Linked DNA regions of Homo sapiens: region 1 is linked to region 2. Evidence: fine-mapped expression QTL. A gene starts in region 2. The other region holds a variant in brackets. All regions are shown on one strand. Distances are between the middles of the regions. Region 1 overlaps CDC73 (cell division cycle 73). Region 2 holds the start of RO60 (Ro60, Y RNA binding protein).

Region 1 (11,043 bases), 170 kb after region 2:
AATTGGATAAATATATGGGTGGAGAGGAATGACTGTCAGCCATTACCTAACACCATACACAAACATTTTTTAAGGTAGATTGTACACACAAACTTAAAAGCTGAAACTGTAAGGCTTCTAGAATAAAGCATAATAGAATGTTTTTGTGACTTTGAAATAGTTTTTTTTTTGAAGGGTGAACCATAAAAAGAAATTTTAAAACTTCTGTTCATCAAAAGACACCATTAAGAAAATAAAAAGGCCAGCCACATGCTGGGAGAAAATCTTTTCATTGCACATTTGTAACAGAAAATTTGTATCTAGAATCCTGTGTGTCAGTATTTTTAAAAATCCTATTAAAAATAAGCAAGAGATGTTGACACTCCACAAAACAAGGTATACAAATGGCCAATCAGCGCATGAAAAAAATTCTCAGTATCATCAGTTGTTGAGGAAGTAAAAATTAAAATGATGTTGAGATACTATTTCACATACCCATTAGAAAGACTAAAATTCAAAAGACTAGAAGTCTCATACATTTTTAGTGGAAGTATAAAATGGTTCAACTGCTTTGGAAAACTTCCTGGCAGTTTCTTATAAAGTTATACATACCCCATGATTCACTTGGAGGTATTTACATAAGAGAAATGAAAGCATGTGTTCACAAAAACACTTATACAGGAATTATTTATGTTAGCTTTACTTGTACGAACCCAGACCTTGAAACTACCCTGCTGTATACTGAACATTTGTGTCCCACAAAATTTATATGTTGAAACTTAGTCACTAATGCCCCAGGGTATTTGTGAAGTAATTAGGTCATAAGGGCTCTGCCCTCACAAATAGGATAAGCACCCTTATGAAAGTGATCCCAGAGAGCTTCCTTGCTCCTTCTGTGATAGGAGGACGCAGCAATAATACGGTTTACAAACCAGGAAGTGGGACCTCACTAGACACCAGACTTGCCAATATCTTGGTCTTGGCTTCGTAGCCTCCAGAACAGTGATAAAGAAATTCCTGTTGTTTACAAGCCACCCCAGTCTGTGCTATTTCTCTTACTGTATCCTGAACGTACTAAGACACACCGAAATGTCCACTAGCAGGAGAATGGTATTTTCTTACAATAGAATTCTACTTAACAATAAAAAATAATGAACTACTGATACATCCCACAGCAGGTATGATTATCAGAAACATTACATTGAATGAAAGAAGCCAGGTACAAAATAATACATCTGGTATATGAGTGTGTCTATATAAATTCCCAAAACAGGAAAAACTAATGGAAAGCAGAAGAGTGGTTGCTTGTTAGGAAGGGAATGGCATTTGACTGAAAGGTATATAAGGAAACTTTCTGGTTGACACAGATGTTCTTTATCTTGATTGGAATGGTGCTTATACTTAGTATACGTTCTTCAAAACTCATCTATTTATGCATTTCACTGTATGTAAATTTTATGTCAATAAAAATGTTGTATATTCAAAAATACACTAAAATGAAGCAGTGGAGTGCAGATTTGATGTTTGAATTCTTCCGCATTAGAGGAATGACATTCCCATTCTTTTTTTTTTTTTTTTTTCTCCTGAGGCAGAGTCTCACTCTGTCCCCCAGGCTGGAGGGCAGTGGTGTGATCTCGGCTTGCTGCAACCTCTGCCTTCTGAGATCAAGTGATTTTCCTGCCTCAGCTTCCAGAGTAGCTGGGATTACAAGCGCACGCCACCACACCTAGCCAATTTTTGTATATTTAGTAGAGACGGGATTTCACCATGTTGGCCAGACGTCTCGAACCCCTGACCTCAAATGATCCACCCACCTTGGCCCCCCAAAGTGCTGGGATTACAGGCATAAGCCACTGCACCTCGCCCTAATCCCGTATTTTTTTTTTTTTTTTTTTTTTTTTTTTGCAAAGCAACAACCAGGAGCTTTATGGAACCTAAAAATGGAAGATAGCAATAGTAGATGAACCTATTTTGCCTGAGATACATATGAAACAATTGCCTATCACACACCCAGCAGTGCAGCCCAAGCCAGAAGAAATAACCAGTTTTCTGGAGGGATGATGACTGTGATTTATGTAGAATATCATAGTTTAATTGGCAGTAGTTTTTTCCTTTCATAGTGGTACAATATAATGGTGTAGCTCACAATCATTGTGTCTTAGATTTGATGAACTGCAGTAGGGTGAACAGGTAAAATTATATTGACTCTGTGGAATACTAATCTTTTTAGTAGACTTAACTTTAGGGAAGAGGTCATAAGATCTATCCTTATGTTTTCAAATGAGATCCTTGCTGAAAAGCGTTTTGAAATAAAGCCTTTTTTATTGCTAATAGAGATGACTAATTCTAAGAAAATACGTAGATATAATCAGAAATTAACATGCTACAGCATCTAAAAATTCTAGGACGGTGGTTAATTGTAAAAACCACGTTAATGTTTCTGAGCTTTTATAAAACATATCAACCAATGTGTAGACCTGCAAAAGTTGAAATAGGTGTATAATAGACTTTTTATTAGTTTGGTATTGTAATAGATCACTCATTTGTATGTATTTTGCATTCTAGTCATATGATTATAAGTAATTTTGTTTATAAGTTTATAAGTAATTTTGTACAAGTAAATTTAAACTTTAACACCATGTTAAAATTTCAGAAGCCAGAAAAGAGGGAGATGCAGTCTTATATTTAACAACTTAAAACAGTTTAAATCCCATGTAGTTATAGACTGAGATAAAACAAAGCATTTCTCTTGGCAGTAGAATCCCTTTGTTCTGTGTGTGTGGAACATAAGTTCAAGAGGGCAGGGACTATGTTTTGTACAACTATGTATATTATAAAACTTATAGCACAATGTATTGCACATACTATTAAAACATTTTTGTTGTGGCTTTTTATTAGAATGCAATTTCAAACAATGCACACATATTAAATTTTCTAAATAATGTGTTTCATTATTCAAAGTATTAGTACTGTCTGGCATTTTCTAAGTGAGCTTGATTAATAAATAAACCAAATGCCATAGGAAGCAAATGATTATCTGGGGGAAATTTTTAAATGATATAGAAATCTTAACTTTTTAACCAAATGTAAAATGGATGTGAGAACAATCAGCTCAGAAGCAAAGTTCAGTATCATCATTATCACCATGAACTAAAAACTTTCTAGACAATAAAATTAGTATTATGTGATGAATCCAATATGTGTAATTGAAGTTTTTCAGAGAACTCTAATTAGTGCAAGTTCTCCTGTGCTTTTTGGTCCTTTCACCCTTTCATCTCTTTTAAACTTTAGAAGCAGAATGATACTCTCAATATATTGATTGTATTCCCTCCATTTTATTGGAGAGACTAGATCATAGTTAATAAAATATGTTATTGGACTGTTAGGATTATGTATATATTTAGAAAATAAGACTTTTAAAATACTTTGTGAACACTAGCAAATTTTACAGGTGGTAATAGCTATCCAGATTGCTAAGTTATTTTTAAGAATATCTGTCTTGAGAATGGATCCACATAAGTAAGTTGATAAATGCCACTAGTTGATAATAATAGCAGGTTATCAGCATGCACTGATTTAATTTTCATACTTTAAAATTTTCAAGGCTACTCTGAAGTTTGATGGTATTTTTGTAATTTTGCTGAAGCATAAAATCTTAAAAAAAAAAAAGTTTTATGAAGCTCCTGGATAGGCTAAGTCGTAAAGAAGCCTACTAGCCACAACAACTTTTTCATTTCAAATGACCTTTTGATTTCTAATAAAATTCCTCTTTATCATGAAGTTTTCCTCTAATAGAATTTGAGAAATTAAGTATTAGTGTGGAAAATGCTAAGTGCTAGTTGAATGAATATAAATTGTGTGGTGTTACACACACATACACACACACACACACACCCAACTTAGGGTCTGAGTGAGCTTGAGTTCTATTTGGTATACAGAGGAAAGACCTATACACTCCATGATCTGTACTTGCAGAGCAGGTTTATTTAAAAACAAACATCTTTAGTTTAAAACTAATTAATGTTTAAAAATTATTTCAGACCGGGCGTGGTGGCTCATGCCTGTAATCTCAGCACTTTGGGAGGCCGAGGCGGGTGGATCACAAGGTCAGCAGTTCGAGACCAGCCTGACCAACGTGGTGAAACCCCATCTCTACTAAAAATACAAAAAAATTAGCTGGGCGTGGTGGCGGTCACCTGTAATCTCAGCAACTTGGGAGGCTGAGGCAGGAGAATCGCTTGAAACCAGAAGGTGGAGGTTGCAGTGAGCCAAGATTGCACCACTGCACTCTAGCCTGGGCAATAAGAAAAAACTCTGTCTCAAAAAAAAAAAATATTTCAAATTATAGTTTATCTTCCCATTTTCATCACGTGGAATACATTGACTTTTTCTCATCTCTGTTTTTTCAAAGATTTGTCCCATCAGATGAAAAGAAGAAACAAGGTTGTCAACGAGAAAATGAAACTCTAATACAAAGAAGAAAAGACCAGATGCAACCAGGGGGCACTGCAATTAGTGTTACAGTACCTTATAGAGTAGTAGACCAGCCCCTTAAACTTATGCCTCAAGACTGGTAAGATAGTCTCTATATATATATCTTTTCACAGGTGTTGAACCCAAGAGAATGAATGTTGTTATTGCCGTTGATGACGTTGCTTTTTAAGAGATGGGGTCTCACTATGTTGCCTAGGCAGAACTTGAACTCCTGGGCTCTGTCAGTCCTCCTGCCTCAGGCTCCCAAATAGCTAGGACTACAGGTGCATGCCACTGCACCTGGCAGCCTATATTTTTTAAATATTCGTTTGTTTTCTGTATATTGTTGGTTGTTTTTTCTCATGTGAGCAATTATCAAATTTTATCATGGGTTCTAAATAGAAACTGTCTTTGAAAAGTGTGTTGATGTATATTTACTTTGGTCATCAATAATGTTAACATTCTAATAATTCCTCAATAACTTTATATTTTGGATAAGTAAACTTGATTTTACTTATAAGAAGAAACATTCCAACTTCTGGAAAACCCAGTGTAAAAAATTCTTTCCACTTGTTCATTTGTTCCGGATCAGCTTGTAGAACCCAGCAAATTAGGCTAATGTAAGGTATTCTATGTTTAGATTTTTGGTTTGGAGAATTTCAATTTTCTGGTAAGAAAAAAATGAAGGCATATTTTATTGTAAGGGAATAATGTAATAAAAATAGGAATAGCTCTTTTATCATGGTTTAACACTTTTATTGAATTTAAGTGTCCTTTAACAAAATATTAAGCTGTTTATAATATAAAGTGCCTATAAATTTAGACACACAAATTACCTTATTTCTTTAACCGGGAGTAAAAGTTGAGTATATATCCGTGATACAGAGAACGCAACACATGGCACATTAGATGAATTTACCTTTGAAGTACTTGTTAGTTTTCAGGCATTAAGAAGTCAAGGCATTGAGAATATTAATATTAAAAATTTTCTTAAGAAAATTGCAACCAGGGGGCACTGCAATTAATTAGTGTCACAGTATCTTATAGAGTAGTAGACCAGCCCCTTAAACTTATGCCTCAAGACTGGTAGGATAATTCTCTCTCTCTCTCTCTCTCTCTC[TCACACACACACA/T]CACACACACACACACACACACACACACACACACATATATATATTTAAAATTTATATATTTATTTATATATATAATTTAATTATAATATATATAATATACATATTATATATATAATATAATTTAAAATATATATATATTTAAAACACACACATAAATATATATATATATATTTAAAATTATAATTCTTCTCTGGTACCTAATAGATACTTTGAGTAATATAGAAAATGAGTAAGATGAGAATTTCAGATATCAAGCTTAAAACCAAGTAGGAAAGTTATATCACTTGTATTTTATGTTTGCAGTGTATTTGCAGAAATAATACAGTGTATACAAATCTCATCACTATGCTGTAAAATACTGCTTGTGTGTATTAGTTAGGGTCTCCAGCCATTGAAGCCTCCAGCATTTTCCCTACTTCCTTATTTTCCTTTTCCTTTAATTGTCCTTCCAAGAATTCATGGGGAGTAACATTTTTATTCTGCTTCCGTGCTGATGCTATGAGACCCAGTAGAATATAAGTGACCTCTGTCCAGCAAATTCCCTTTGCTTTGGCAGGCATCTTGGGCTTTCAACTGTTGTAAGTTACATCATAAAACTGAAAGATTATTTAATAGTGTGCTGCATTGCCAAAGATGATTTTGACAGTTTGAGGCATGTATCCCATGAAAGGGGAAATTTTTTAACTTAAGATTTAATTTTAGTCTCAGAGATTTTTTTTAATTTTTTATTTTATTATTACTATACTTTAAGTTTTAGGGAGATTTTGAGCAGGTTGAGAACTTTAAGCTGGCAGTTTTTAATAGTTGTAGGTCTTTGCTTGAATAGAAGGTAACCCTGGTTTAATGTTTTTTTGTATGTCTGCAGTCGTCATTAATTGCAGTGGTTATCAAAGTGTGGTCTGCAGACCTCAGGTCATTCCTAAGACCCTTTCACAGAGTTGCAAGGTGAAAACTATTTTCATAATAATACTGAGATGGCTATTCTCATGATTTATCTGCCCTTAAATAGGAACAGTAGCATACCCAGTGCCCTAGCATAGTAATTTATTCTCCTCCTTCTCTTCTTCTCTTCTTCCTTTTCTCTGTACTTCTACCTTCCTCCTTTCTCTTCTCCAACATGCCCATGCACTTGTTTCTTCATTTATACAATGAGGTTTCTAATACAGTGAGGTCATTGGATTGTTTTGAAGATTAAATGTGTTAACATCATAAGTAACGCATAAAGTCCTTAAAATGGCACTTGACACATAGTAAATGCTCAATAAATGCTACTAATGTTAACCATTATTGCTGATAATGTTGTTGTTTTGTTCCCACCGCTTTAGTTATTGGCTTTAACTGTTTATGGCAGTACTTCTTATAATTTCTCAATTCAATTAAGTATTTTATAAAATAATGAAATTTGAGGGCCTACAAAGAAGTTTGTTCTTTCTAGGAAAACTGGGTTGTTTGGTTGGGAAAAAAATGCTTTAAAAACTACTTATAAATTTAGGGTGAATGAAACAGTTGTAAAACAATTGCAAAAATTATAAAAGTCTAAATGGTTTCTATACTCAGATTACTTCCTAAGTAATCACAAGAACTCAGATAAGGCCCTGGGACCTCGTAAAATGGTTGATGAGTTCCTATAATGTAATATTTTTAGTTAAAGTAAAATATTTAAGATGTGTTTGAATTTTAAATGATTTTTTAAACAACTTTTTTGATTAATAGTTATCAACCACTATTCCCTATTACATTGGAAAAGTGGGCCACTACTCTAATTAACAGAAGGGAACAGAAAGGGCAAACAAGATTACATACGAGTATTGTCCATTGAATTATGTTTAAAAGACTTAGGTGTAAAAACCAGATACATGAGAAGTATAGCAATCATTAATACATTCTAATGGCAATATCATATTGAAAAGGTGGTAAGTACTGTATTTGCTTCATGGAAGGATTGATAAGACTCTTTCACATGAATGTTTATGGGACTGTTGCCTAAGGGATTTATAGTAGCTAAAGCTCAAGTTTGAAATAATCTCCGTCTGTCCCCTACCTCCCCCCACCCACTTTTCTACTTGTAGGGACCGCGTTGTAGCCGTTTTTGTGCAGGGTCCTGCATGGCAGTTCAAAGGTTGGCCATGGCTTTTGCCTGATGGATCACCAGTTGATATATTTGCTAAAAGTAAGATTCTCTTTGTATTTACTGTATCCAGTATAGAAATGTTCTCACTTTATTTAAGAGAAACAGTCATATAGTTCTGCGCATATGATGTGTATGTCAAAAGATTGCTGTTAAGTAACATATGTTAATGTTTAAGCATCTGTGACATATTTTTAAAAGCTTTGTATATTAATACTTTCTGTGTAGGTATATCTGAAAGTGAATATTGCCTATCCCACAACATTACTAATTATTTTTAGATCACTTAAAAATCATTGGCCAGACACAGTGGCTCACACCTGTAATCTCAGCACTTTGGGAAGCTGAGGCAGGTGGATCACCTTAGGTCGGGAGGTCGAGACCAGCCTAACCAACATGATGAAACCCTGTCTCTACTAAAAATACAAAATTAGCCGGGCATGGTGGTGCACACCTGTAATCCCAGCTACTCGGGAGACTGAGGCAGGAGAATCGCTTGAACCCGGGAGGCGGAGGTTGCAGTGAGCCGAGATCACTTCAGCCTGGGCAACAAGAGCGAAACTCCGTCTCAATAGGAAAAAAAAATTAATACTGTTGCATGTCCATAGATTTTGATTAAAATTGATGCCAGTTTTTTTTTTTTTTTTTAGACGGAGTCTGGCTCTGTCGCCCAGGCTGGATTGCAGTGGCGCGATCTCAGCTCACTGCAAGCTCCGCCTCCCGGGTTCACGCCATTCTCCTGCCTCAACCTCCTGAGTAGCTAGGACTACAGGCGTCCGCCACCACGCCCGGCTAATTTTTTGTATTTTTAGTAGAGAGGGGGCTTCACAAGGTCTCAATCTCCTGACCTTGTGATCCACCCATTAGTTATTATGAATGTCAATTGTACAATTCTGAAATGTCTTATGTTTTTAGCAGCCCCAGTTTTTGTTAGTGGTACCATCATTTTTCCTTAGAAAATACCCAAGCTTGAAAGTTTTAGTCATTTGTTCTTCTGTTACCTTCATTCATTTAAAAAAAAAGAATTCTAATATTACTGACTGTAGGAAATTGGTCAGGGTGGTGGGAGAAATAGAAAAAAGATGCAAACCTTCTTGGAAGGCTGGGAGGTTTTGCAAAAGCTTTGAAAGATAATTTGGCTGAAGTCAACTGGATTCTCTTACCCGGAGCCTGATAGCAAAGATTAGATAACCTGGGGATGTAAAGAAATTGATCTAGATAAGTTAGTTTACTTAGGCCTCCCAGAACGTGGCCTTTAATCAACTGCAGGAGTCGGGAGGTAGGGGTGGCGGGTTGGAGGTGGTGTGGTGGGGTGGCGAGGCAGTGGTGACCACGTTAATTACCCACAAGTGTGTTGACTCAAAGCCTTTGTCATTAAATCTGTAATAAAAAGATGCTGGCATGTCAGGGCTGCGGCTGCTGTGACTCTTTACGGCATCCTCCTCGACGTCTGTGAGTGGCCCAGTCCCCTAGCTGCACGTCCAGGAAAAAACCTGTGTCTGCGTACATTTTCCTTCTGTCGTTCGGCCAGGATCTGCAGGTTGGGCCCGGCAACTGACATTATGATAGCTTTTTATGTTATTTCTGAAACTTGAGTGATACACAGAGTTGGTAAATGGGAAGTTAAATAAAAAGGGAATGAGAATTTTAATGAAAGTAAAATGTCAACGAGAATTCTTTTTTACCTACTTGCTTGCCTTGTTGAATAATGTTTCAACAAAAAATGATTAGGATGTCTTTAAGATATAAATGTTGTATGAAATTCATTAAGAATATAAAGTTTTAATTTTTGTTCAAATTTAGTCTTCTGAAATTTAGATAAGAATTTAGAGAATTTTAACAATCATCAGTGATTTACTTTCATGAACTGTTCTTTCTCTTTCACCTGTTCCTTCTATACTGACTCCTTTTTCTCAGCGTTTAAGAATACTCTTTCCCCTTCCTTCTTAAACAACAAAACAAAACCCTTACCGTTGACCTCACCCTTTCCCCTAGCTTCTTCTTTTTCCTTTTATAGCTGCACTTTGGAAAGAATTGTCTCTACCAACTCATTTTCTGTTCATATCCCCTGTAGTCTGGCTCTTGCTCTGTACTAAAGCTGTTTTCACTGAAGTCACCAGTGACTCAAATATTGGATACTGTTAACTTACCAGAATTTGATTCTGTTGACTCCTTTACTCCTTTTTAAGTTACTTTCCAAGTACCTGTTACACTTTGTCTCAGATTTTCTTGCTACTTTTCCTCTGGTTATCAACTGGAATGGACCCTTCAATATCATGCAGTTGAAAACTCCCATATAACTTTTGACTTATCCCAAACATACATACTAATAGCCTACTGTTGACTGGATGCCTTAACTGATAACATAAACAGTCGATTAACAAATATTTTACATGTTAGCATTGTATACTGTATTCTTATGATAAAGTAAGTAGAGAAAAAGAAAACGTTAAGAAAATCGTAAGAAAGAGAAAATACATTTACTGTTCATTAAGTGGGAGTGGGTTATCATAAAGGTCTTCATCTTCATTGTCTTCACATTGAGTAGGTTGAGGAGGAGGAAGGGTTAGTCTTGCTGTCCCAGGTGGCAGAGGCGGAAGAAAATCCATGTATAAATGAACCCACTCAATTGGAACTTGTATTGTTCAAGGATCAAATGTATATGGTTATGTCCCTATTTCTCTTCTCCCATAATTTTAAATACCCTCTCAAGAAGATCTCATAGCTTTCAATTACCATTTATATTCCCTCATTCTAAAAATTATGTCTTTAGCTCAATATTCTGGACCTATATACCTCACTCACTATGAGATAACTTCTCTGTGATATCTCATTGGTACATCAAACTCAACCTTTTCCAAATGGAATTGATGGTTTTACTCTCTTCCTTATTCCTCAAACTATTTCTTATTATCTGTTAGTCCTTTTCAGTAATTTGCCTAAGCCAGAAACTTGGGAGTATATTATCTTAGCTCTTGGTTGATCTTTCTGCTTTCACTCTTCTGGCTTCCAGTTGTTTTCTCCATCAGATTACACTGTACAGCATTGGGGGAAAACTGAGGGTATTTGGGAGCATCTCTGTGGGCCTTGATAGAAAATTATATTATATTTTGTTAATGTTGCATAATTATAATGAAATACATCGTTTGAGAGAAGATTAAATACTGATTTGCATAAAATTGCCAAATAAAATCTTTACAAATTTAGAATAAGTTTAAGCTGATATCTGGATATATTTTAGATATGTTATACTTGACGTGGCTATATTTATTTGTTGGTTGACATTTAAAATTTTTTTTTGTTGATACATAATATTTGTACATATTTATGG
Region 2 (10,767 bases):
GAATTACTAAATTCAATTTGGTAAAATGGTTTAAAATTTGTACATTTAAGTTAATGATGGATATAGGTCTGCAATTTTCTTTTCTAGTAATATCTTTGTCTGGTTTGGTGTCAGGATAATGCTGGTCCTCAGAAAATGAGTTGGGAAGCATTCCTTCCTCTCCAATTATTTTGGAAGAGTTTATGTAGAATTGGTATTATTTATAATATTAAATATTTGATAGAATTTACCAGTGAAGCCACCTTGGCTAGAATTTCTTTGTGGGAAAATTTTAAACTACAATTTCCATTTCTTTAATAAACACAGGGCATATACTGGTTATCTATTTCTTAAGTGAACTTTGGTAATTTGTGTCTTTAAAGGAATTTGTACATTTCATCTAAATTGTCAAATTTATTGGCATAGTTGTTCATAATATTATTTTTAATATCTGTAAAATTTTAGTGATGTCACCTCTCTCATTCCTATACTGAAATACAGGAACATCTCTTTTTTTCTGATCAGTCTGGCTAGAGTGATTCTATTGATCTTCCCCAAAAAACAGCTCTTAGTTTCATGTATTTTCTCCATTTTTTTCTCTTTTCTGTTCCACTAATTTCAACTCTGATCTTTATTATTTCCTGTCATCTGCTTACTCTAGGTTTTCTACTTTCTTATTAAAATGAAAGCTGGGGTCACTGGTTTGTTGTAAGAAAAATGAATCTAGTCCCCATTACTCTATCTTGGCTGTAACCAAATATTTACAGCTTCTGTTTTTATTAACAGACCATCACGGTTTGTTTTGGCACACATATGTATTATGTGTGGACCATACCAATTAAAAGTACAGTTCTGCTCCACCAGTTTCTTAATTTAATGATACTACATTCTACCAAAATCTGTATTTACATACTTACTGCATCTACAATTCATTTCCCTTTCAATGATGGAACTTTTGAAATGAATTTATGACAGCATTCACAATACAGGTATTTCATTTTTGAAAGAATCAACAGCCAAAAGCTTTTTTAAATCTATAAATTGGGTGAAAAAATGAAAATGATGGAAATAATTGGAATAAACTGATTTTCTCTTTGAAGCATCTGATGGTGACATAAACTACCACCATTTAATTGTTTGCAGGTTCTTCTGCTAATGAAGCCAATTTATTAATAGCTGCTGATTTTTCATATGTGCATGTACAGAAGATGAATTTATATATCATTCTTTCATGCATGATCTCCAAGTTTTCTGCACATATGAAATTGAAGGAGTAAAAACAAACTTACCTAGTACAACATTTCTGAAAGTTAACTTTAACATATTGTTAAGGTTTTGAACGTAAAATATATGACTAAATCTGCAGACATGTCAAACTCAGTGTCTGTCCAAATCTGAATCCATTTTCTTGTCCATCAAGCCTGCTCTTCACTTGTAAGAGTGTTTCACCAGCCACCCAGGCTAGAAACCAGGGAGTTATTTTTGCCTCTTTTTTTCCCCAACTTTTAGTAAGCAGTCCTTTTGATTTTTTTTCTCTTATGTAGGAGTAATATACTACCACTCAACCTCTACTGTAAGGTTGGCAGCCCTGAGAACTCCTTTTTTAATTTAGCGTGTTATGGATGTATTTCTGCTCCCAAAGGAATGAAGAGCAGACATTACCACATGCAACTGTTGATTTAAATATAGCAAACTTATTGAATCTAACTCCTCCTTCCTAACCCACTAGTTTAGCCAATCATCTCGGACTCCAACCATTTTAAGAGATGTCTAGCTTCTCTCACTTTATTCCAACCTGCCCTGCACACTTAAAAGCACAATAAACCTTAATTATGAAAATAATGTCATTTCAGCATTAAAATATATTTGATAGGTAAATCCCCAGTCACTACAGGGCAATTCAAACTATACAACATGGCATACAATCTGTCCTCAGTTTATCTTTTCAGTTTCAGATCCAAATAAATATTCCTCCAGTCTGCTATATTATGTTCTAGTCACTTTGCTAGCTGTTGGCTAACCCATATACTTTAACATCACTACTGTTTATGCTTTTCCTTCTGGCTGTGCTCCTCCATGACCTGTGTACTTTTAACATTTTGTATATACTCTAACATAGCAATTAACACACCATATTATAGTTTGACTGTCAATTATTCGAAACAGCAGTTATGGTTTATTCACATGAAAATTTCCCAATCCTTGGGTGGGCGCGTGGCTCACGCCTGTAATCCCAACACTTTGGGAGGCCGAGGCGGGTGGATCACGAGGTCAGGAGCTGAGACCAGCCTGGCCAGCATGGTGAAACCCTGTCTCTACTAAAAAAAAAAAAATTAGCCGGGCATGGTGGCGCGTGCCTGTAATCCCAGCTACTCGGGAGGCTGAAGTAGGAGATTCGCTTGACCCCGAGAGATGGAGGTTGCAGTGGGCCAAGATCGCGCCACTGCACTCCAGCCTGGGCGACAGAGCGAGACTCTGTCTCAAACAAAAAAAAGAAAATTTCCCAATCCTTACCACTGTGCCTGAGATATAGAAGATGAACAACATATGCTTGATAAATGACATTCCAAATATTAAGCTGTGTACAACAGGCAATATCTACATCAACGTTTAATTGTTAATCCCGCGTAAAAGTTTTAACATCGTAGAGTCAATAACACTTGGGAAATAGATAAAAACGTACTGTCCAAAGAAGAGACTAAGAACAAGATAAATAGGGAAGGATAAAAAGTAAAATGTGTTGATTATTTAGGACGAAAGGCACTAAATACAGCCAGAGAGAAACTGTGAGGAAAGCATGTGGCCTCTAGTCTAGAACACTAGCTCAAGAAAACTCACTTCACCGGAAGCCAGAAATGAGCAGAGAGCGGAACCAGTGAAGTGGCCTTTCAGGCCCACGCAGTCAGCGTGTGTGGACGTCCCGAAGAGCTATTCACACATTCAAGGCGTTCTGCTTTGAATAACCAGAATCTCGAGTTCCTGGGCGGCTTGAGCCGCAGACACCTCACCCTTGAGAAGGCGCACCCTAGGGTGGCTTCTGCAGGACTAATGGCCTGAGCAATGCACTTGACCTCACCAGCCCGGGATAAGGTGCGCGCCGCAGAGAAGGGGCAGTGCAAAGGGCAATACGTGCTTAAGAGCTTGGGGAGCGAGGGCCCTCAAGTCAATTACAGGATTTGGGTGCCAGGTCCTGAGGATGCAGCAGGCACAAGACTGACACGATCCTTGCCCTCGTGGTGTGGCTCTACAAATTACTGTGGAAACGCGACTGTCTCGAGCTGAGGAGAGGGCAGAACATCTACATTTCCCCCACCCGGACTCCAGGTTCCTGAAGTCACCTCTCCAGACGCGGGGCGGCGGTGGCCGCAGGGAACCACTCCATGCCCAGCTTGGGCCTCCTCCCGTGACCCCAGGCCCAGGACGGTCCCCTTGGTTCTCACCGAATCCTTTAATGAGCTCGGTGAAGACCCCGGGGTCGCTTTCCATGAGGCACCACTCCCCGGCATTGCCCGTCATGGCCCTGGCCACACACCGCCCCGATCCACCTCTCGCTCTCAGCTGCCCCCCGCACCAGCTGCCGCCGGCCACAGATCTCAGCAAACCCGCCGCCGAGCTCGTCAACCACACGTCACCCCGCCTACTTCCCGACAGCCTCCGGGCGCCGTCACCTGCAGCGCGACTGAGCGCGGGAGGACGCTCTAGCCACCCTAGAGACATCGAAACTCTTCCCAGGCCTTGCAGCACCCGTAGCGGATTCGGAAGGGCTGGGGCCTGAGAAGAAAGGGCGGTGATTCACAGCGCCGAGGAGGCAACATCCGGGATCCTCGCCCCTCTGGGGCGGAGGCGGGGCAAAAGAAGAGGGGCAGGACTCGTTCCCGGGAACCGAACCTGGAATCCCCGGCGGCAGTGGGGCTGTTGCTGTTGCTGTGGCTGTCGCTGCCCGTCAGGCTGCCTTCTTTTGTCGTTTCCCAGCGCTGCGCAGGACTTCTCCTGGCGGCGCTGCGGATCCAGGGGGTCGGCTGCCAGGTACAGGTGAGGACATTGCGGGAGGCCGGCTGGGAGCCTTTTGTGCGGCCCCAGGGACGCGCAAATTCTGACCAGTCCTCCATGTCTCTCACCCGCATCCCAGGGGTTGAGGCTGGGCAAACGCCGCGAAACTATCGCTCTTCCCCGTCCCGCTTCCGCGCCTGTCCACCCTGGGTAACGGAACCAGCATCGCGGTAGGGACATCCTCGCTAGGCCCGGCCGGACCATTCCTCAGGGTGGGCCCTTTCCGAAGCCGGGACCGCTCCTGCTTGTCGGCATCGCTCCCCACAGGCCGACGTCGAGAGGGCCTGCTTTACTCCTCCTCTTTCTCCTCCTTCTCCCGCGGCTTCTGCGCGGAGAGGCGTCGCCCGGGATCTGGGTTTTGGAAGAAGGATCTTTGTGGGAAGACAGGGTGAATTTATCACAGAGGAATAACGAGGGAGAGGAGAAAGGTTTGTCCATGGGGCTGCTAGACTAGTGGAAGGGGATGCGGTGCGTCAAGGGAAAATTAGGTTGAAAACAAATGTCGTGTATTAATCTAAAAACATTTGGAATGGTTCTAAAACTGGATGATGAGTTAAACCAAATATTTACTAAATATTTACTAAATTGCCCTCATTCAGCAGGCTCTTATAGAATACTATAGTGTTAAGATTAAAGTTTTTAAGAGTATATTGAAGTCGTTAAGTGTATATTTACTCCTTAAAAGCTACATATTCCAAGAAAGACCTTTGGCTTCCAGAAAAAAAAAATGTTTTAGTGGGTAAAACTCTGACTCCTTCCTTCTCAAATAGGTGACTTGTGCCCTGGAGTTAGGGAGCCTTGTGCTACAGATTATGTGAAGCCATGAAATAAACGTGGTAAATTTTATTGAGGGAAGCAACAGAGCAGCTTTTGTATTAAAAGGAGCCTGAGTACGCTATGGGGTAGAAGCCAAAATTTGTATGAAGTGTTGGTTTAAAAAAAATTTTTTTTGTAACTTTCTTGAAGTTTATCTCCGGAAACTCTGCCCTCAACTTGGAGACTAGGAGGATTCTGTACAGTATATTTCCTTGAGATACTTTATTGGAAAAGTTTAAGAGGCACAGAGTCCAGAATGATTGGCATCAGAGCCCAAAGTAGTTTGTGGTATTTTTTTTAATCTGTAATATTGCTATGAACTTGAAAATGTTTTCTGTGCAAAATACATCAAAACTAAAATGTACTTGATACCCAACTTAATTAACATGGTACCTATTGTAGAAAGACCAAACTGAAAATTTAGCCTTTGGCACAATCTAGAAGTAAGCAGAGAAGGGGGTTAAGATGCCTTTCATTATGTTAACGTTTAATCCTGAGAGTTTACATAAAAAGCCAGATTTCTGGGTCTTTGAGAAAAATGAGATCTGGCAACTACTAGTTCCATACCACGTGGCAACCAGTTGGCAGCTCCCCTCAGACTAGCATGCTGTCATTTTTGCCACAGTTCCTTCCTCATCAGTTTTTATAGCATCACATTGATCAGTGGATTCAGATACCTGTATCATGGGTAAACAAACCTCTATCATGGGCCCAATTTTCTATTGTTGTTTCTTTACATTTGTCATGCACTCTCATAGATATGTCAGCTTTGACTTCATTTAAAAAGGAATAATCTGCAAATGTGTTTGACTTCTTGAGATGAAAGGCAGCATTTTCAAATAAATTATAAAGAGACTTTGGAAGATATTGAGATGTGTAAATTCAAGAAAAATGTAGGATTCCTTGGAAATAACACATTAGTACTGATAAAAGATACTGTATATGCTGTAGTTCTGATGATTGTGAAACAAGTGCTATTATATAATGTGTGTTACTAGCATTTCCTGATTTTGCATTCTAAATTAAATTTAAAAGTAGAGAAATGGACATTGTATAAAATATCCACAACCAATTTAATATGCGGCCATGCTTGGCCGGGCACCGTGGCTCACGCCTGTAATCCCAGCACTTTGGGAGGCCCAGGCGGGTGGATCACGAGGTCAGGAGTTCAAGACCAGCCTGGCCAACATGGTGAAACCCCGTCTCTACTAAACATACAAAAAATTAGCCGGGTGCGGTGGCAGGCGCCTGTAATCCCAGCTACTCAGGAGGCTGAGGCAGGAGAATCGCTTGAACTCGGAGGGCGGAGGTTACAGTGAGTGGAGATCGCGCCACTACACTCCAGCCTGGGTGACAGAGTGAGAGTCTGTCTCAAAAAAAAAAAAAAAAGTGTCCATGCTTTTAATATTATAGTATTGTAATATTTAACTTCTCAAGAACTTAATTTATAGAGATTTAATACAACATTAGTTGTATGGTGTGTTTTAAGAGCACTAGATAGATAGGTCAGGCCCATCCAAAGAATTAACTATATCTTTTTGTTGTTAATCTGGATTTACAACACTTGATTATCCAGGAATGGATTAACTGATGACCAGGTTCTGACCTCACTCACTGCCCAATTGCCTTCTAAACCACTGATAATGGAGCTTAAGCTTTGAGGCAGGAGATGATGGCAGTTGGAGAAAGAAGAAATTAAGTTGCTGTATATGTCTTGTGGGTATCTCAAATTGCTTTTAAAAGTCAAATATAAAAATTGTAGGGCTAAATATAATTTTTGTGTAATCAATTGTATTGGTGCTCTCCATTCTGATATAGATAATAGCAGAGTTAAGTGCTTGTTTATTTAAATAACTTTCCAAATATATTTTACCTGGCTAGTTTATGTTTGTATTTTTAATAATAGATTTTTAGAATATAATTCACATATCATGAAGTTCACTATTTTGAAGTATCCAGTGCATTGGGTTCTAGTATATTCACGGAGTTGTGCAGTCATCACCACTAATTTCTGAACATTTTCATCACCCAAAAAGAAATCCCCTACCCATTAGCAGTCACTTCCCAGTGTTCCCCCACTCCGACAGCCTCTGACAACCTTAGACTAATGTACTTTTTATTTCTATGAATTTACCTACTCTGGAAAATTCATATAAATGGAATTGTAATACAATATGTGGCCTTTTGTGACTGGCTTCTTTGACTTGGCATAATGTTTTCAAGGTTTGTTTACATTGTGTCATGTATCACTACTTCATCCCTTTTTATTGTCTAATAATAGTCCATTGTATGGATATACCATATTTTTTTCATCCCTTCATCAGTTGATGGACATTTGGGTTGCTTCTCCTTTTTGACCGTTATGAGTAATGTTGATAAAAACATCTGGATACAACTTTTGGTTTAGATACATGTATTCATTTTTCTTAGGTGTGTGGTAGAATTCCTCGGTCATATGCTAACTATATTTAACCTTTTGAGAAACTGCCAGACTGTTTTCCAAAGTGGCTGTATGATTTTACATTCCCACCAGCAGTATATGAGCGTTTCATTTTCTCTAAATCCTCACCAACACTTAATATTATTGTTTTGATTATAGCTGTCCTAGTGGATGTGAAGTGGTATCTTATTGTGGTTTTGATTTGCATTTCCCTGATGACTAATGATGTTCGTCATCTTTTTATGTGTTTACTGGCCATTTGATAATCTTCTTTGGAAAAACACCTTTTCAGATTCTTTACCCATTTGTGTGTCTTTGGAGTAATATTCACATCTTTTGCCTATTTTTACTTGGGTTATTTATCATTTTATTATTAAGTTGTAAGTGTTCTTAATATATTCTAGATACAAGTCACTTATTGTATGTATGATTTGCAAATATTTTCCTTTTTCTTGGGTTGTCTTTTCACTTTCTTGATGGTGTCCTTGGAAATACAAGTTTTAAATTTTGATAAAGTCCAGTTTATTTTTTTATTTTGTCACTTTTGCCTTTGGTGTCTGCGTTCCAACACTAATTCTGTAGCATCAGCTGGGTGTCCCCCACTTCCGTTTAGTTCTGGCACTAGCTGCCCAGGGTTGGCATCAGATCCCACAAATTAAAGGACAAGGTCCCCACTAAGAATGCCATTAATTTGGACACCAGCTGTAAATGGGGTCCCCAGGCTACTCACACTTCTGCCCTGCGGACTACAAATTCAAGACTTCCCATAATCCCCTCAAGGCTGATAGTTCACTAGAATGACTCACATAACTCACTGAAAGTGCTCTACTTGCAATTACAGTTTTATTATAAGGGATACAACTCAGGAACAGCCAAACAAGAAGTAGACACATATGGCAAGGTCTGGGGCAAGGGAAGGATGCAGAACTTCCATGCCATCCTTGTGAAATGTGGGATACAACTCAGGAACAGCCAAACAGGAAGTAGACACATATGGCAAGGTCTGGGGCAAGGGAAGGATGCAGAACTTCCATGCCCATCCTTGTGAAATGTGGGCACATCACCTTCCCAGCACATCAGTTTTTGTTCACCAAGGATGCTCCACTGAGTATCGATGAAGAAAGTTTTTATGAGGTTTCATCACATGGGCATGATTGATTAAATCATTAGCTACATGGCTGAACTTGATCTCAAGTCCTCCTCCTTTCATGGAAGGTTGGCCTGACCAGTTTATTCCTCTAAACATATAGTTGGTCTTTCTAGTGATTAGCCCCCATCCTGAAGCTACCTAGGGGCCCATGTTGCCTCATTAATGTAACAAAGACACTCCTATTTCTCAGGAAATACCACGGGTTTTTGAAACTTTCTGCTGGGTATTATGTCCAAAGACCAGGTACTCTCTCTTATAAGATGCCACAGTATCACATCACTTTGCCGAATTTTGAGTTTATGTGTGTATCACACTCAGTGACAAGAAGGAGAGTAACTTGGGACATGTTATTCTGTTTTCTGTCTTTTAAAATATGAATATGACCCTGGTAAATTTATATAATCAAGTAGGAAGGTGCCCTGGCTGCTAATAATGTTATCTGTTCCACTGTTTTATGTTGCACTCTGGAAAGTACAGTCACAGAAGCATAGGAAAACCTGAGCAGTTTCTGCTGCAGAAATACTGAAAGGGTATGTCCTCAGGGTTGTCATTTATATCATAACATGCAAAAGGAAGAGTCCATGAATAAGTAACTTTATTTCTTCTAATAGGGATTATAAGGATTATACTTAGAGATTACCTCTTAGACATCCTTCATAGATTTAAAAGTTCATTTTGCTGCTTGCTCTAGAGAAGTACCTGAATACCTAATATTAAATATGTTAGAAAAACAGAAATTTTGTTCTTAGATGACATTTTTACTCAGTATTCATTACTTTTCTTTAGAACTTTATTTTTTCTTGATTATATTTTTCACTACCTGCATATAGTACATTTATCATTCTGATTACAGAATTTATCTTAAAGACTTGTATTATATTTTGCATTATAAATATTGAGGCTTTTATTCTCAAAATGTGTTATGGGAAAGAGAAACCAATTGTGCATAATTATTTGGCAAATGGTTCAGAAAGTCAACTTTAATGATATTTGGCTTTAAGTATGTATTGCTAATTACATAAAAGCAATACAAAAGAGGAGACAAAAATGATAAGATTTGGTTTCTACTTTCAAGGGAACCAATAATGTAGCTACATGTGGTCACAATGAATAATACAAGGAAAAGAATTTGAGGGGAGAGGGAATTTTGAGGTTTGGTTTGGGACCTTTTAAATCCCACCACTTGGGCCTTGGTGCAGGAAAGCAAGTTTAGTAGAATTATCTGATATTAGATGTCATTTCAGTGTTACTCATCTAACAAATAAAACTAATAAGCAGAAGTAGACAGGTTGAAGTGCAACCAGAGCCTGTTTTTATGAAAGCTGAGGGAGAGACTAGCAAAGTCTATGTAATGTAAAGATCAGAAAAACATAACATTGTCTACTGGAATTGGCAATTAAGGTATCAGTCTTTGAGAAGCATGTTAGTCTTCTTAAAGTGTTTTGGATCGAAAGGTAGAGATAAAAGCCAAATTTGAAAAGAGGATAATAATAAATAGGAGAACAGGCATCCACTGCAACAGGAGTTTCAACCTATGCTGTATTCAGTAACTATGAATTTGTCCCTAATGACTAATATGATCATTACATCTCTGATGCCACCTGAGACCTAGGCTTCCACTAACATAAGCAAATTTATACTAGCGTCTTATTTGGAATATTGACACTAATATTCCGAACACAATTCAGATCACTGTCCCCCTCAGTCACATTCAAAATGTGAGGCTCTTCATTCTCCCATGCACTTATCCCTACACCACTATGTGTTCCCCTCTCTGAGACCCAGTCTTTCATTCCTCCCCTCTCTACCAAACTTCTCCACATACCATTTGGCATTCTACATCTCCTGTCAGGGGGGAATGTCTTCAGTTTCCTTATCCCTCATTCCTTCAAATCTATCTTTACCTATACTCTTTACCCTTAAAAGATAAAGGAAATATCTCTTGCTGTCAGTAGGCCAGTCTCAACCTGGATGCTCTAAGCTCATTCTCATTTCTTTAAGAAATTCCTTCAGTTATCCCCCTTCTCTACTGTATCTTCAGCTCTCCAAATTGAATCTTTCAATGTTAGCATCTTCCCATTGAAAAAGGTAAAAAGATTTTTTCTCTAAGTCCCATCCTCTTTTACTTTCCTTCATAGTTTATAAGTATGTGTCTACAAAAGAGTAGTCTAGCTGTGAAGTTTCTTCCTCACTGCATATTCTCCTGATCTCACTGTAATCAAGCTACTTCTTATACCACTCTACTGCAGTTGCTCTCACTAGTCACTCCTACTTGCTAAACCCAGTGGTCATTTTCTAGCCTTTTATTTACTTTTCCTCTGACCATTTGAAA

What was found.
Region 1: its variant is fine-mapped to the expression of RO60 in whole blood (INTERVAL, PIP above 0.99).

The regions. Positions count from the first base shown.
Region 1 is chr1:193,228,603-193,239,645 of GRCh38, forward strand. CDC73 (cell division cycle 73) reads left to right here. Exons shown (of 17, transcript NM_024529.5): 14 at 4,391-4,552; 15 at 7,654-7,754. Among named protein-coding and RNA genes, the nearest start is that of B3GALT2, 48 kb to the left of the region's middle. The variant TCACACACACACA/T (reference allele first, on the strand shown) is at 5,573.
Region 2 is chr1:193,055,766-193,066,532 of GRCh38, forward strand. It overlaps RO60 (Ro60, Y RNA binding protein), which reads left to right and starts at 3,847. Exons shown (of 9, transcript NM_001173524.2): 1 at 3,847-4,011. UCHL5 (ubiquitin C-terminal hydrolase L5) reads right to left here and starts at 3,595. Exons shown (of 11, transcript NM_001199261.3): 1 at 3,420-3,595. The coding sequence starts at 3,495. It also overlaps SCARNA18B. RefSeq lists enhancers at 2,947-3,256, 3,281-4,013, 3,417-3,946, 4,014-4,746.